Linked DNA regions of Homo sapiens. The protein of the gene in region 1 interacts with the protein of each later gene in a biochemical or structural test. Each region holds a gene or a part of one and is shown in the gene's direction. Other genes may lie near its edges.

Region 1 (7,058 bases):
TTGCTTTGTCACCCAGGCTGGAGTGCAGTGGCACGATCCCGGCTCACTGAAACCTCCACCTCCTGCGTTCAAGTGATTCTCTTGCCTCAGCCTCCCAAGTAGCTGGGATTATAGGCGTCTGCCACCACGCCCAGCAAATTTTTGTGTTTTTAGTACACAAGGTTTCACCATGTTGTTCAGGCTGGTCTCGAGCTCCTGACCTCAAGTGATCCGCCTACCTTGGCCTCCCAAAGTGGTGGGATTACTGGCGTGAGCCACAGCGCCCGGGCTGATCGCTTTTGATAATTTACTTTTTCCAGGAGTTTTGCTATTAAAAATGTGGTAAATACCCTTGCACACACATCTTTGTCCCCCTTTGCCAGTTTTTCTTTCAGAGTGACACTCAGAAGTAAAAATTGTACACTCTTAGGACAACTTAGCAGTGTCAGTATACATTGTGTAAATTTTTATTTCCACCTATTTTTTCATGACATTTGGAGTATAAACTATTATTAATCTCTAATAAATCAATAAATGTCAGTTGAGATTTGGCAGTAAAAAAATGTCATCTTATTGTTTTAGTTTGCATTCTTCGATTTAGAGAGGTTGATGTGTTAATGACCAGCAGGCCGCTCTTGTCAATCCTGTTGGGCTGTATGCTGCTATATGAGAGTACAGTGCTGTCATGACTGCCCTTTTGTTATTCACAGTTACCTGTCACTGGGTAGTTGTAAGAGTTGTACAGTTGAGATGCTGAGCACATCAGAAGTGTTTTTTTGATGCTCTATTCAGCACTTCTTTTGGTATTCCCATTGAATCCAGTGAACATTTGGATGGAATACTTAGACCTTTTATCAATGTCAATGGCATCCGTTATTGGTTTTCAATATGTTTTTTTGCTTAATGATCTTGAATTAGAAGATAAAGATGTCATTCAGCCACCATATCCAGGTTGATGTAAGAAAATTTTGATTGTATAATACTTGTATTTCTTTGATGGTTCATTACAAGTGTGTATCACTAGTAAAAATGATCACTGAAAATGTCTCATTTTGGTCATAGCAAAGGGTTTTGCTAGCCTTTTGAGTTTTTAATTACGTTACATTTTAGATTAATTTCATCAAATCACTGGAATTAAGAAAACATTATCCATAGAGAATGCCACTTTGAGTGGTTTCTTTTTTCTTTTCTTTTTCTTTTTCTTTTTTTTTTTTTTTGAGACAGAGTCTGGCTTTATTGCCTAGGCTGGAGTGCAGTGGCATGAGCTCAGCTCACTGCAACCTCCACCTCCCAGGTTCAAGCAATTCTCCTGCCTCAGCCTCCCGAGTAGCTGGAATTATGGGTGAGTGCCACCACGCCTAATTTTTGTATTTTTATTAGAGACGGGGTTTCTCTGTGTTGGCCAGGCTGGTCTCGAATTCCTGACCTCAGGTGATCCACCCACCTCGATCTCTCCAAGTGTGGGATTACAGGTGTGAGCCGTGGCGCCCAGCCTGGGTGGTTTCTTTCAAGCTGTAGATGACTAGTAAGAGTCTGAGATCATTTGTACAGCTTGGGAATTTTTCTTTTATTTTTTGTTGAGATGGGGTCTCCCTTTGTCACCCAGGCTGGAGTGCAGTGGCATGATCATGGCTCACTGTAACCTCAACCTCCTGGGCTCAAGCGATCCTCTCACCTCAGTCTCCAGTGTAGCTGGGATTACAGGTACAAGCCACCACACCAGCTAATTTTTTTGTTTTTGTAGAGATGAGGTTTCACTTTGTTGCACAGGCTGGTCTCAAACTCCTGGATTCAAGTGATCCTTCTGCCTTGGCCTCCTAAAGTACTGGGATCACAGTGAGCCACTGCTCCTGGCCTGGTTCAATAAATTTTGATAAGTATATACATCTGTGTAAACCATACCCCCTTCAAGACACAATGTGTCCATCACTCCAAAAAAGCTTCCTTGAACCCCTTCCCAGTGTAGGGGAGGGAAAATAGCCTCTACCCTTCTAAGTTTTCGGTTGGGGCCCCTGTAATAAAGGGTAGATTAACAAGAGAAAAACATGTAAACTTGTTTAATATAAGTTTTATGTGACATGGGAGCCTTCATAAGGAAAGGAAGACCCGAAGAAACAGTAAAACCTGAGTGTTTTTAAATTAGGTTTGATGAAGAAGGAAGAGTTGTGGAATGTGATAGGACAGAAAGGGATATGAGCCAAGAGTAGTAAACAGGGAAAAACTTAACAAGGCCTGTTTGTTCATATTCCTCTGGGTGTTCCTCTATTTTTTTTTTTTTTAATTTTTGAGACAGGGTCTCACTCTGTTCCCCAGGCTGGAGTGCAGTGGCATGATCATAGCTCACTGCAGCCTCAACCTCTTGGGCTCAAGTGATCCTCCTGCCTCAGCCTCCTGAGCAGCTGGGACTATGGGTATGTGCCACCATGGGTGGCTGATTTTTGAATTTTTTTTGTAGAGATGGAATCTCACTGTGTTGCCCAGGCTGGCCTCAAACTCTGGGGCAGAAGTGATCCTCCTGCCTCGGCCTCCCAAAGTGCTGGGATTATAGGCATGAGTCAATGCGCCCGGCCACTCTGTCTTTTGAGATTAAGATGCTGCTATCTTCTGGGTATAGAGAGGACACCTCTCACATGAGGATCCTATGATCTGCTTCAGGGGAAGTCTTTTTTGCACCTGCTGTTTCTCAGATTCCTTCAACTTAAAATATTCAACAATGCCAAGGTGTCATATTTTGGGAGTAGCATGTTCTGAAGCCTGTCATAGTCAGTTCCCTATGACCCTGCCCCAGGTAAATTAATCTATAATTGTAGATTAGTTTTGTCAGTACTTGAACTTCATATGAATGTAATCATACAGTATGGTTTGTGCCTTTTTTGGGTCAGGTTTCTTTTTTTCCACATATCATTTTTGAGATTTATCCTTGTTGTGTGTATCAGTAATTTTTCCTTTTTATTTCTGAATATTATATACCATTTGTTTATTCATCTGTTACTAGACACTTGGGTTTTTCTAGTTTTGGGGTTTTTGTAAATAAAAATGCTGTAAACTTTCATGTGCAGGCGTTTTTGTGAGCATATATTTTCATGAATACTGAGTAAGTATTTGTGAGTGGAAGTGCTGGGTCATATAGTAAGTGTATTTTTAACTTTATAAGAAACTACCAATTTTCCGAAGTGGTTGTGATATTTTACGTTTCTCTTAGCAATGTACAATAATAGTTCCAGGCACTTCACAGCCTCGTTGAAACTTAGTGTTGTCTGTTTTTAAATTTTAGTTACCTTAGTGGGTGTGTAGTGGCACCTCATTGTGGTTATAATTTTGAATTTCACTGAGTGGAGCCTTGATAAAGAATGTTCTTGAGGTTTTCCTTAATTTTTCTACAGGATTGTAGCCATATACAATTGAAATTCATCTTTTATATTGTTAAATTTTTTCTTTAGGTGTCTTTAAGAGTGATTGAAGAGAATAATTCAAAATGCCTGAAAATCCTGCTACAGGTATACTGGATATATTGTTCTATAATTAAATTAATTATTTAAAAATGGAATCTCAAATGGGACTTAACTATTACTCTACTTATTCATCTTGACCCAAGATAAACTGCAGGTGCTGCAGGTACTTGATCGCCTGAAAATGAAATTGCAGGAGAAGGGTGACACGTCGCAGAATGAGAAGTTATCTATGTTTTATGAGACACTAAAGAGTCCTCTCTTCAACCAGATACTCACACTTCAGCAGTCCATCAAGCAACTGAAGGGTCAAGTAAGTTACCCATCAGAGTTTTACATTAATATATTATATTAATATATTCAAACCATCAAAGAAAGATAGAGGAGATAGACAAAGACAAATTATCTTTAAGGACTCAGTTCAGCAAAGAGACTGTATTGGGACCTGTAACCTATAACCTGTGGGTAGCATTGGCATAGATAATTTAGAAATATCAATAATCAATTTTTTCTTTGGTAACTGGATGTGGTGGCATGTACCGGTAGTCCCAGCAACTCAGGAGTCTGAGGTGGGAGGACTGCTTGAGCCCAGGAGTTCCAGGTTGCAGTGAGCTATGATCATGCCACTGCACTCCAGCCTGGATGGCAGAGTTGAGACCCTGTCTCAAAAAAAAAAAAAAAAATTGTGTTTGGTTTTAGAATATGGTTTTTGTACTTATTTAAGTATGTAAAGGTCAGATGCTTTGAGAATTCTCAACATCTTCAAAACTATAAAATAGTGCTTAACTTAAATATATTTTCTTTTTATTTTGAGACAAGGTTTCTCTCTGTCACTGAGGCGGGAGTGCAGTGCTGTGATCCTAGCTCACTGCAGCCTTGACCTCCCAGGCTCAAGCAATGTTCCCACCTCAGCTTCCAGAGTAGCTGGGATAGGTGTGTGCCACCACAGTTGGGCTAATTTTTAAAAATTTTATAGAGGCAGGGTCTCCCTATGTTGCCCAGGCTGGTCTCAAACTATTGGCCTCAAGCAGTCCTCCTACCTCAGCCTTCCAAAGTGCTGGGATTATAGGCATGAGCCACCTTGCCCAGGCGTATTTTCCTTATGAAGTCTTTTTTTGTGTGTGTGTGTGGTCTTTTTTTTTGTGTGTGTGTGTTATTATTATTATTTTTTTTAGTAGAGACGGGGTTTCACTGTGTTAGCCAGGATGGTCTGTATCTCCTGACCTTGTGATCCACCTGCCTCAGCCTCCCAAAGTGCTGGGATTATAGGCGTGAGCCACCTCGCCCGGCCGAAGTCTTTTATCTAACAAGAAGTGATCATGCCCTTATAGCACAATAGTCACACTTCTCTTAATTATCAAATATTTGTTGTCTTTCATGCGTATTCTGATTAGAAGTTCCTTGGAAGCAGAATACCTGGTATTTAAATATATAGTTATGTTTCTTCTACTCATTTACCACACTATCTGGATTCTTCAGGCTCTAATACATCATTATTGAATAAGGGACACATATCACCTCTTCTTAGAGGGGTGCAAATTAGCAGTTGTGGGATTTTTTTTTTTTTTTGGTGCTGAGATTGAACCAGAAATTAATTGTTTTAACTGTCCTCTTGGATTCTTTGTTTTGGGGTCAGGGATGGCAAATTACTTTTAAATCACCTATTCTGGAAGCTGAACTTGAATAGTAGCTATACCATAGATGAAATTTGGGCAGAATTTAAAACATAATTGGAGCTAATTTAGCACAGTTAAGTGAAAATTTACAAAATTTGGGAAAAAATGGTTTTTGCTGATAAACTAAAATGCTTGCCCATTAAGTATTTTGTGAGTGATTTGTTTATAGCCAATTAAGGATTAAATTCTACATGTGTCTTTCTGTGAATTGCTTTCTTTAGACCAGAATTTATACCCTAATTTTAGCACTGCCTATATTGATGTTTAGCTTTCTGTATTTCTCTTGGTCACAGAATATCACAATAGTGAATGCTGTTGGTAGCAACTGAAATTGGCAAAGATCAGCAGAAATCTATCACACTTGTTGGACTAAGAGTGGCTGTAACTACCCTATCCTAATAACAATTCTTTATATTTGTATAGTTTGGAGTTGTTATGTACACAGTCATATTTTATGCATTGGACTGTATAATCCCTGTAGCCAGGGGTTTTTTATTTTTTCTTTGAGGTTTTATTGACATTCATTTTTTTTTTTTTTTTTTTTTTTTTTTTTTTTTGAGGCAGAGTATTTGCCTGGGCTAGAGTACAGTGGTGTGATTATGGATCATTGTAGCCTCAACCTCCTGGGCTCAAGCAATCCTCCCACTTCATCCTCCCAAGTAGCTGGGCCTACAGGCATGTGACACCATGCCCAGCTAATTTTTGTATTTTTTGTTGAGACAAGAGTCTCACTATGTTGCCCAGGCTGGTCTTGAACTCCTGGCCCTGAAGCAGTCCTCCCACCTTGATCTCCCAAAGTGCTGGGATTACAGGTGTGAGCCATCACACCCGGCCTAACATTTATTCTGTTTTTTTTTTTGGAGACAGAGTCTTGCTCTGTCATCCAGGCTGAGTGCAGTGGTGCAATCTCGGCTCACTGTAGCCTCCACCTGCGGGATTCAAGCAATTCTCTTGCCTCAGCCTCCCAAGTACCTTGGAATTACAAGTGTGTACCACCATGCCCGGCTAATTTTTGTATTTTTGATAGCGATGGGGTTTCACCACTGACATTTATTCTTAATGTTACCTTTATTCTACTGTTTTGGCAGTTGTATCAGCCAATGATATTTTAAATTATGTCCACCATAATTACATGATTCTCCTCTTTCTATCAATGTTTAAGTGGCTCCGTGACTCACTGCTAATCTTGAGTAAGTTACTTAACCCCTGTGTGCCTCGGTTTTTAGGCTCACAAAATGGGATAATGATATCTCATTAGATTGTTGTAAGAATTAAATGATAATACCTGCAATCATGCTGGTATAGTACTTACTCATAGCAAGCACTCAATAAGTACAGTTATTATCATTATATACTACCTGTGGATCTTTTGTTGCTCCCCACGTGGAATTGTACAGATAAATGGAAAAAGGTTTAGTGCCTTACACTGTTATGTGACTGGATGCATCTGTATATGTGAAGTGTAAAAAGATGTCAGTGTACATGCTGTTAACTTGGACTAGTGGTAGAAGGCAGGAAATAAGAACAAATTTTAAGCTATTAAACATTTTGTGTAATACTAAATTTAAAAAATTTTTAGCCTTGTGAATACACAGATTTGATCTATCTTTACCTTATTTCTTTTCCATGTATATATTTAATGTGCAAAGTATCTATGTAATGGTCAAAATATATTTAATAAATAGAAACAATTTTTCTATAGATTTCTGTTGATTCTTTTTTTTTCTCTCCAACAGCTCAACCATATACCCTCAGATTGTTCAGCCAACTTTGATTTTTCTAGGAAAGGTTTGTTAGTGTTCACAGATGGTTCCATCACTAATGGAAATGTCCACAGGCCCTCTAATAACTCGACTGTATCTGGGTTATTTCCGTGGACCCCGAAGTTGGGAAATGAAGACTTTAACTCAGTCATTCAACAGATGGCTCAGGTAAAGTTGTATCTTCTCATGGA
Region 2 (8,043 bases), on another chromosome or scaffold:
ATGGAGTAGGGATGATCACAGGAAACAAAAATCTCACAAAACAAAAAGAAAATGAAGTTTATTTAAGTATGACCTTATGAGGAGAATAGTGTAAAGAAGGAAAAACACTTTTCCTCTATCCTCTTACCTTCAATGTCTGAGAATTAAACTGATAAAAGACAGACTGACAAGAGAAAAAACATTTAATTACATATGTACACAAAGCCTTCACAAATAAATGTGACTCAAGGAGGCAATTAGAATTTTTGACCTATACCATCGTAACAGAAGTGATTAAGTGTGAAGAGGCTACACAAAGGAAAGGGGGTATGGGGCTTCCTGTGGAGAACAGGGGTGAGGGGGGAAGTTAGGAAAGGTGCTAGGAAACGTATGATAAATAAGGGTTGTCTAGTAAGGTGTGTTATATGCATAAGCGTCCTCAAGAGATATTTCCAAGTAGATCCTTTCCTGGTAGTAGAGAGGCAGACAACTTTATAAATGGAAATTTATGGCCTACTCTTAGACAGAAAAGCAGGAGGGAAAAAGAGTTTTTCTTGTATCTGCTATTTCTCAATTGCTTTCAGCTCAAAATATTCCTTATGCCAAAATGGCACATTTTGGGGTAGGCATATTGTGGTCCCTTCAATAGGAACCCAGAAAACATCAGGACCAAGACAGCTGCTCTCTCTGGTTCTCTTGTTCTCTTAATTTCAAATTCCCTGGAAAATAATCTGATTGGCATCATTACCAGTTAGGGGTCAATGGTTAGGCAGTGGATTGGCTACATGGCTCAGGTCTCCCCACAGGGGCTGATGCCTTGCCAGGTGCATTGTTATGAGGTGTGCAGGGCTGCCTCCTTCAAGGGCTGTGGATATACGTACTAGGAAGCATTTCTATTACACATACCAGATGTTTGACACCATTCTGATTTTATGAAGTTGTTAAAATCTCATGACCCCACTGTTTTCCAAGAGACAGGACAACCTAGAAGTTTCACATACCAAAAAATGTAACCCTTAACTTGCTTAGCAAAGCTGAGTTTCAAAACCTCTATTCTGCTCTATCATACTTTATCTGATTTTTCCACATTGTACAGCTAATCCCAACTTTTCCTAATTCTCTCCCAACATCCTGATTCCAATTTTTTATTGTTCAAAGTCAAGTTCTTCCAAGAACTAAACAAAGGACTAATAAATATTGGCTTTTCTTAGTGTGGGAGGTGCTTCAGCAGTTTAAGGCAGTGAGGGACACAATCATGATCATGATGTGGATCCTATCCCTTAGGGGAAAAGGCTCACACAAAAATAACCACACCATTTGATATAGAGTGTCAAGGGTCACAATACAGTAAGGAAGAACTCACCCTCTCAAGAAGGGGGAAGGCCAGGAAACTTTCAGAAAGTTTTTACAGGTAATCATTAGGCAGAGCCATGGGAGGATTTGTATAATATATTCAGAGGATGGGGATGGGGTGGGGCTCAGCCAATCCTGAAACCACCAGAGCCACCTGAGCGGAACTATTATTAAGCCCTAGCAACCCTTCTCAGGCCCCGCTTATTCCATTACTCTCTTTCCCTCCTTTGCCACCCACCTCTGTTTTAACATTCCTCTTTAAAAAGAAAACCCCAAAATTATCAGTATTGGCGTACTTTTTGAAGATTTTATCTTCACCTCCCCCACTCCTCCATAGACACCCAGGTATGACAAGAGACTCAGTGCTCCTGCTTCCTCCTATTCCTTGCTGCCTCTGCTATGCTTCTTAGGGAATTTACCACTAATCTTTAGGGGATAATATGAAAAAAATAAACATTGGAAAGTTACAAAGTTTTCGTAATCTTAAAAGTTTCAGGTAGACTTCTTTCTGAGCTGGTAATTGAAAAGTTGTTTGGATTTCTGCTGTTTACTTTCGTTCTTGAGGGTGGAGTCACCAGACCTCCTAATATTCTAACCTTGCCCTGGGCCCCAGTGTCAGCCTGAGCACAGGCCCTCTCCCCACCCCTACTTTCCAGCACTTTTCCCAAGGTGGCCAGGCTAGCAGTTTAAATCATCCTCTTCTCAAGCCAGTCATTTGCATTTCTGTGGATCCTCAGGCTAGGTAACAGTGGTTTCATTCCTTCACTGGAAATCTGGAATTGGGCCATTCCAACTTGGAGGCAAAGGACATTTTTGTAGGAGAGAACTTAATTGGCAAAATAAGCTAGGATTTTGAGGACAAAGAGCACAATCTTCAAAATCATTTCAGTGGTATTCAAGGGCCAAAACATTGGCAACAAAGTAGAAACCTCAAGAAATTCCCTTCAGACAGTTTCTTGGTGAAAAGAAAGGCCAATAGATAGAGATGGTGGTAGGGTAGAAGGAAGGTGGTTTTACCAAAAGCCAGATATTTGGAAGGCTTAGGAAAAATCTTTGGAGGAGAGGGTGTAACACATCATGTAAGAGAGAAATTATAATCAATAGAGCAAAATCCTGGTAGAGAGAAGATGGCTCATGTTTAGGAGCATAAGTGGAGTATGAGCCTTGAAGAGAAATGTGGTCACCCTTCTCAGCCATGACTGAAGGAGGTGAAGATGTGTGAAAACTAGGACTGAGGTTTAAGAAAGTTAAGTTGAGGAACCTCATGGTGGATCCTTCAGTAGAGTACGAGGCAAGATCATTTGCAGAAGTGCAGGAAAACCACGTAAAGTGGGGGCTTCAGGAGAGCAGACATTGGACAGGTTTGGAAGTGGCCTGGATAATGTTCCTGGATAAGTGTTCCAGATAATCATCCTCCTGATGAGGAAAGGAACTGAGAATCAGTGAAGACACAGCCAAGTCTGAATAGCATGAACTTTTAGTGGAATGAAGTGATTCTTTAACCTTGTCTAGCAATGCTTAGTAGCGCAGGAGCAAGTTCAAAAGAAACCTTTCAACTAAATACAAAAATAAACAAAAAAATTAATGTTGAGTGGCAACTTATTTCAGGGGACATTATTCATGGTGGATTTCAGTAACATTTTAATTATGACAAACACGAAATCTACAATATCAAAATAGTCATCTGAGAAAAACACCCACACAAAAAGATTATTGGAGTAATAATCTTTTATTTTCTTCTTTCTATGCTAGCCTAAGGCAAGAGAAAAGACCCATTTTTTCTTTCCATTAGACACAACTTTCATTCATTTGATGTTATTGAAATTTAAAAGAAGCAAAATCATTGGTATCTTTTCATTAAACATGTGTCTCATATAACAATTTGTGGTTTACTTTTTCTGTTCTATAAACAAAAACACACATTAAAAAGCCGGAAGAAGTAAAAAACAGCCTATTTCCATGATGGCCAGCCATGGCACAGCACTTCCTGGCCCCTGCTGATCCCTTCTCAATTCTGAAAATATTTAGGGGGAACATACACACGTTCACCTGTTTTGTTCCACAGTCCTACCCTGTGTAGGACTGTCAACTGAGTTCACATTTTACTACAAATGTGGAGAGGTTTTTTTTTTTCCAATCAAGGCACCATATTAACATTTCTTAGGTTACATCTTTGTAATCTTCAATTATAGTAAGATAAAAACCAGTAGCAAAGCATATCACCCAACTTAAAATTCAGAACAATACTTAGACATATGCAGCTTGCACACACATTAACCTGTTTCTCCCAACAAAATATTTGTAATTTCCAAAATCCTATCAGCTTTTTCACACAATATGGTCCCTCCAATTTGAGGGGTAGTAACATAGTCTCCTTACTAAAGAGATTAGTCTAAAAAAAGTAAAATCGCCAAAAGAATGTAAGAATATCAGTGGCTATAGGCTAGAGCAATATCATCTTTTAAAGCCTAATATGTTCATGAAATCTCACTTTAAGAAGGTGATATCTAAACATAAAATTTATTGACAAAAAACAATTAGTATTGATAAACCACCACAAAATGATTTTAAATGAAAGTAGAAGACATTATTAAAGCTCAAGATTTTTGCGTGTACTGATTTCATGCCTCAGGTTATTTCCATATCAAATTTAAAGAGATACTGGAAAATAGAAAACAAAATCCATCAACTGTAATCCATTTCCCTTACTCTTTTGTGAAATCATCACAAGGTGTGAAGGATTGTTTCTGTTTCCTCTATCTTTAACAAGCCTGTAACCTCTCAAGTGAAAGAACATGCACCTGTCAAGCTCATAGTGCGGGATGTACACACAGATGTGTTTAATAAATATCTGCCCACAGGGAGATTAGAGGTTTGCTTTGAGAATCAGGGAACAGGCTAGCTCATGTGTTGACGCTTTGGCATCTATCATACAATCCGCCACCTCGTTCCCTTACCAAAATATCCTCAAAGGAAATCCTCTTTGAGTCTTTCAGAAGAGTTATGAGTTTGAGGACCCAAAACGTTGAGGAAAGATCCACCCCAGGGAAGGGGGAGTGGCTGCAGAGAACAAACATAAGTAGGATTTAGGTGGCTCAGTGACGTCAGGAGGAAGCAGCGATGGAAGGGATGGGGTGCAAACTCACCTGGAGAAGCAGAAGCTGCACACATGTCAAAGGTCAAAGGGCATAGCCTCAGGGACTCCCCAAACGCAGGAAAAGTGAAACGCCCACTCCTGGGCTCTCGCCGTCAGGGGTACATCTAAGGGCTCAGCTGTTCCTACCTTTGACGCCAGGGACAAACCCTACCAGGCACAGTTGGGATTGGCAGTAAGGCAAGGAAAGCCTGCCCCAGATTTCAGAGCCAGCGCTGGGGAATCTCCCTGTCCTCTCCGCCACCCCCTCCCGCGCCCGAGACCTGAGACACCTTCTCTCTCACACCCACCCTCTCCAGGCCCTCTCGCGCTGAACAGCATCGGTCTCTATGGCGACCTGAAACCGCAGCTCCCATTGGCCTGTTCAATATGAGGGCCGGGCCAATGGGGAGGGCCAGCCCTCTCCTTCCCGCCAATGGGGTGGCGGGAGCTGGCCCGGGGACGGCGGCGTGCTGACGTTCCCGGGAGCCCGGGGCTGGCCGGGCGGGAGGGCTGGCAGCGGGGCGGGCGGCGGCGGCGGCCTCTGGGCAGTAGAGGGGGCTCCGGGGCTGAGTCCGCGTCGACGCCGGCCGCGGAGGCGGCACCATGGGCAAGGGGTAGAGGGGCAAGTTGGCCACCGCCGCCGCCGGGGGTGGTGGGAGAGCCGCTCCGGGGGCGGGGGCCGGTGGGGGAGGGAGGGGCGGGCAGCCGCGCCGCCGCGGCACTTTTTTAATTTTTTCGGGTGCCGCAGCGGCGACCCCTCGGCGCCGATGTCCCTGATCCCTGGAGCGACGACGGCCGCTGCCTAAGCTGGAAAGTAAGTGTGTGGGCTCGCGGGAGGGCGCGGAGACTCCTGCCCACGAGACCCTCGGCCCTCGCCCCGAACACGCGCCAGGGCCAGGACCTGCGCGCCGGGGGCCGGGGGCCTCCCTCCCGCTGCCGCGTCCCCAGCGCCTCGCGGCCGCCGCGGCTTTCCTGCCCCGCCTCGTGTTCCTGCCCGCACTCGCCTGCTGCTCCCCTCCCCCCGGCAGGCGCACAAGTTTCACCCTCCATTTGCTTTTCCCGGCGATTCCTCTCCCCGGTCTCCCGTACGCGCAGCGCACGACCTCTGCCCACGCTGGGCTGTTCGGATTCAGAGCTCCCAGCCCCGAACTTGAGCGCCGCGCTGAGCCCTGCTGGACGCCCTCGCGGCGGCTTCCCCGCTGCCTGCCGCCGCGCGCCCCAAGTCGCCCTCGACACCACTGGGCGCCCGCCCTCCTCAGCACTCGGGGCCGGCTGTCTGTCCTTCTAGCCCCAGATCCTGCACCTTGGTCCCCTCCCCGTCTTCCCACGCCCCTGCTGCCCGCGCGGTCTTGCGTTTGTCCCCGAAGTCCTGTACTCCTTGCCGGTCCTGCCCACCCCTCTGCCTAGTGCGCCCCTCTCTACCGGCCGCGGATCCTCACGCTCCACCCCTCCCGGCTCCCCAGCGCCGAGCCTCGCCGCTGCCCTCCTGCGCCGCCGCTTCCTCCTCTCCCTGCCAGGAGTTGAAGCGGAGCTGCGGCACCTCCCTGGCGGATCTGGTATCCCCGCCCGCTGCCGAGGCTGCCGGCCCTCTCCCCTGGACCGCTACCCGGAGAGCGAGCGGCGGGGCCGGGATTTGGCTGCGTGTTGGCTGAGTGCGACACACCGCGAGCGCGGGCAGTGGAGGTGCCGCGGCGGCCGTGGCCGCTCGGGGCGCAGCGGTAGTCAGGTGTGTGTGTACAGCGGGGGACGCGCGCTGCCGGCTCCTGGGCTGGCGACAGATTGTGCAGGAATGCGAGGAATGCACCAGGGGCAGAGTCCACACAGCCCGCCGCGGCTGCCCTAGCGCCTTCCCTCCCCAGCTCTCGCCGCGCAGCCAGAGGTCACCGGAGCATCTTCGGAGCTGGTGAGCCTCATTCCACTCCTCTCCTCCCATAGCTTCCCTCCATGCGGCAGAGGGGAAGCGCGGTAATTCTTTGGGGCTCCAGCTAGCCTTTCGTCTGGGTTTTTGCTGCATTGGTCTTCAGGACCGTGAATTTGGGGCCGATGACTGTGTAGCCAAGGTTATTGATCATTGCACAGGGCTGTTGGCAAGTTTGGTGTGCAAGGTTTGGATAGTGCCTGGTTTTCACTAGGGTTTTCTGAAAACCAGCAGAAACAGGGGGCCTGAAGGTTGTTAGAGTAATGAGCTTGCAGCCAACATATTTTAGCTCTATCAAAAAATGCCTGTTAGTGCTCACGGGCATGTACTGCGAGAGAGATCTTGAATGCATCACTTTGGTATCCTAAGAAGTGTAATTTTTTTCCCTCGTCATACTGGGCTGTGTTTAGACCTCGTATAATACATAATGAATAGAAACAGAGAAGCACTGTTCGGTCAGCGATGGGACAGATAGAACTGTCTGGTACAGTTAAATTCGGGACGTGTCAGTTACCATTGAAAGTAACACGGGGACACCACAATCATGTATATTTCAAGATGTAATTTATTAGTGGAGGTCTCAGTTTTTTCTCTTTGTTACTGAGTTTGACTGAAAAAAAAAAATAAATGCTGCCCTACAAGTTTTAAAGAACGGTAATTATTTACGTGTAAAATCAATGATGGCTAGTATGCATTTTTGGTCAAATTTTGTTTTCCTTAATACGGGAGAGCAAAATTTTGACAGAAAATGGTTCGCTAGAATTGAGCTTAGATTCTTTTTATTTTTAAAGAGAAACTAGAAGAATGCTTCTCTTCTTGAATGCAGTATATTGCTGTAGGAGTATCTTCGTTTTGGTGCCTGTGAAACAGTTATGGAAAATGGCAACATGAAAACGAGAACAACTAATGTCTGAAATAAGTGTTTCTGGGTGTTGAAAAGCATCATATGTGTGTTTTTATTTGACACAATTTGCTTTGCAGGTTGCATTTATGATAAACCTCTTTGCACCTGGTTATTTTATGTCAGATTCAGTAAAATAATAAGTCAGTTGTCTGACCAATCAGCTTTCTTCCAACACCTACTTTGTGTAGATCATGGACATTGAAAACTATTAAATAGGAGCCTTTAGTTAAGGACTCAACAGAAAGGAAAAAAAATAGAAAAAAATATTTTGCACTCAGAAACGTTTATGTTTTGGTTGCTACGTTGTTTTTCAGCTATGTGCATAATCAGTGAATCTTCTAATTTAGAGGTTTAATTTGTGTCCAGTAACACTGTGGAGGATATTGGGAGGTGTTTGTAAATGCCAACAGGAAACTTTTATTATGTAACAGTATCATATTACAGCAGTGTTTAACCCATGCTTAACCCGTGCTTTTTTGACTTGATGTCAAGATTGGGAAGTAAAAGCAAATTTAGTTTCCCTGCCGCATTAGAAATTGAAAACCCTGTTCAGATGTATGGATCACACACACACACACACACACACGACACACACACACACGATTGGCTGTGCAGATAGTTTTGCCTGCTTCAGGTAAAGGTAACCTTTCAGTTAGAAATGCTTTCTATTTGTTACAGATATTCAAAGAGTGGAAGTTTTTCAACTAGTGATCCTACACAATTGAAAATAACCGAAATTGTATTTTGACCAAA

What was found. Proteins that work in one complex are often made in the same cells at the same time.
Region 2: the proteins of PATJ (region 1) and PKP4 interact in a test that uses a peptide from one of them, tested with the Homo sapiens proteins (2 studies listed by IntAct, with this or other methods).

The regions. Positions count from the first base shown.
Region 1 is NC_000001.11:61,759,439-61,766,496, forward strand, and holds part of PATJ (inaD-like protein), read left to right. Parts: intron 1-3,419; 5' UTR 3,420-3,454; coding exon 3,455-3,476; intron 3,477-3,574; coding exon 3,575-3,741; intron 3,742-6,840; coding exon 6,841-7,035; intron 7,036-7,058.
Region 2 is NC_000002.12:158,451,937-158,459,979, forward strand, and holds the start of PKP4 (plakophilin-4), read left to right. Parts: upstream 1-5,015; 5' UTR 5,016-5,194; coding exon of another isoform or gene 5,195-5,518; exon of another isoform or gene 5,519-6,371; intron 6,372-8,043. Other genes in the region: CCDC148 (coiled-coil domain-containing protein 148), read right to left, coding at 4,479-4,503; uncharacterized protein LOC124907900, read right to left, coding at 5,195-5,518. UniProt on the Homo sapiens protein: Plays a role as a regulator of Rho activity during cytokinesis. May play a role in junctional plaques.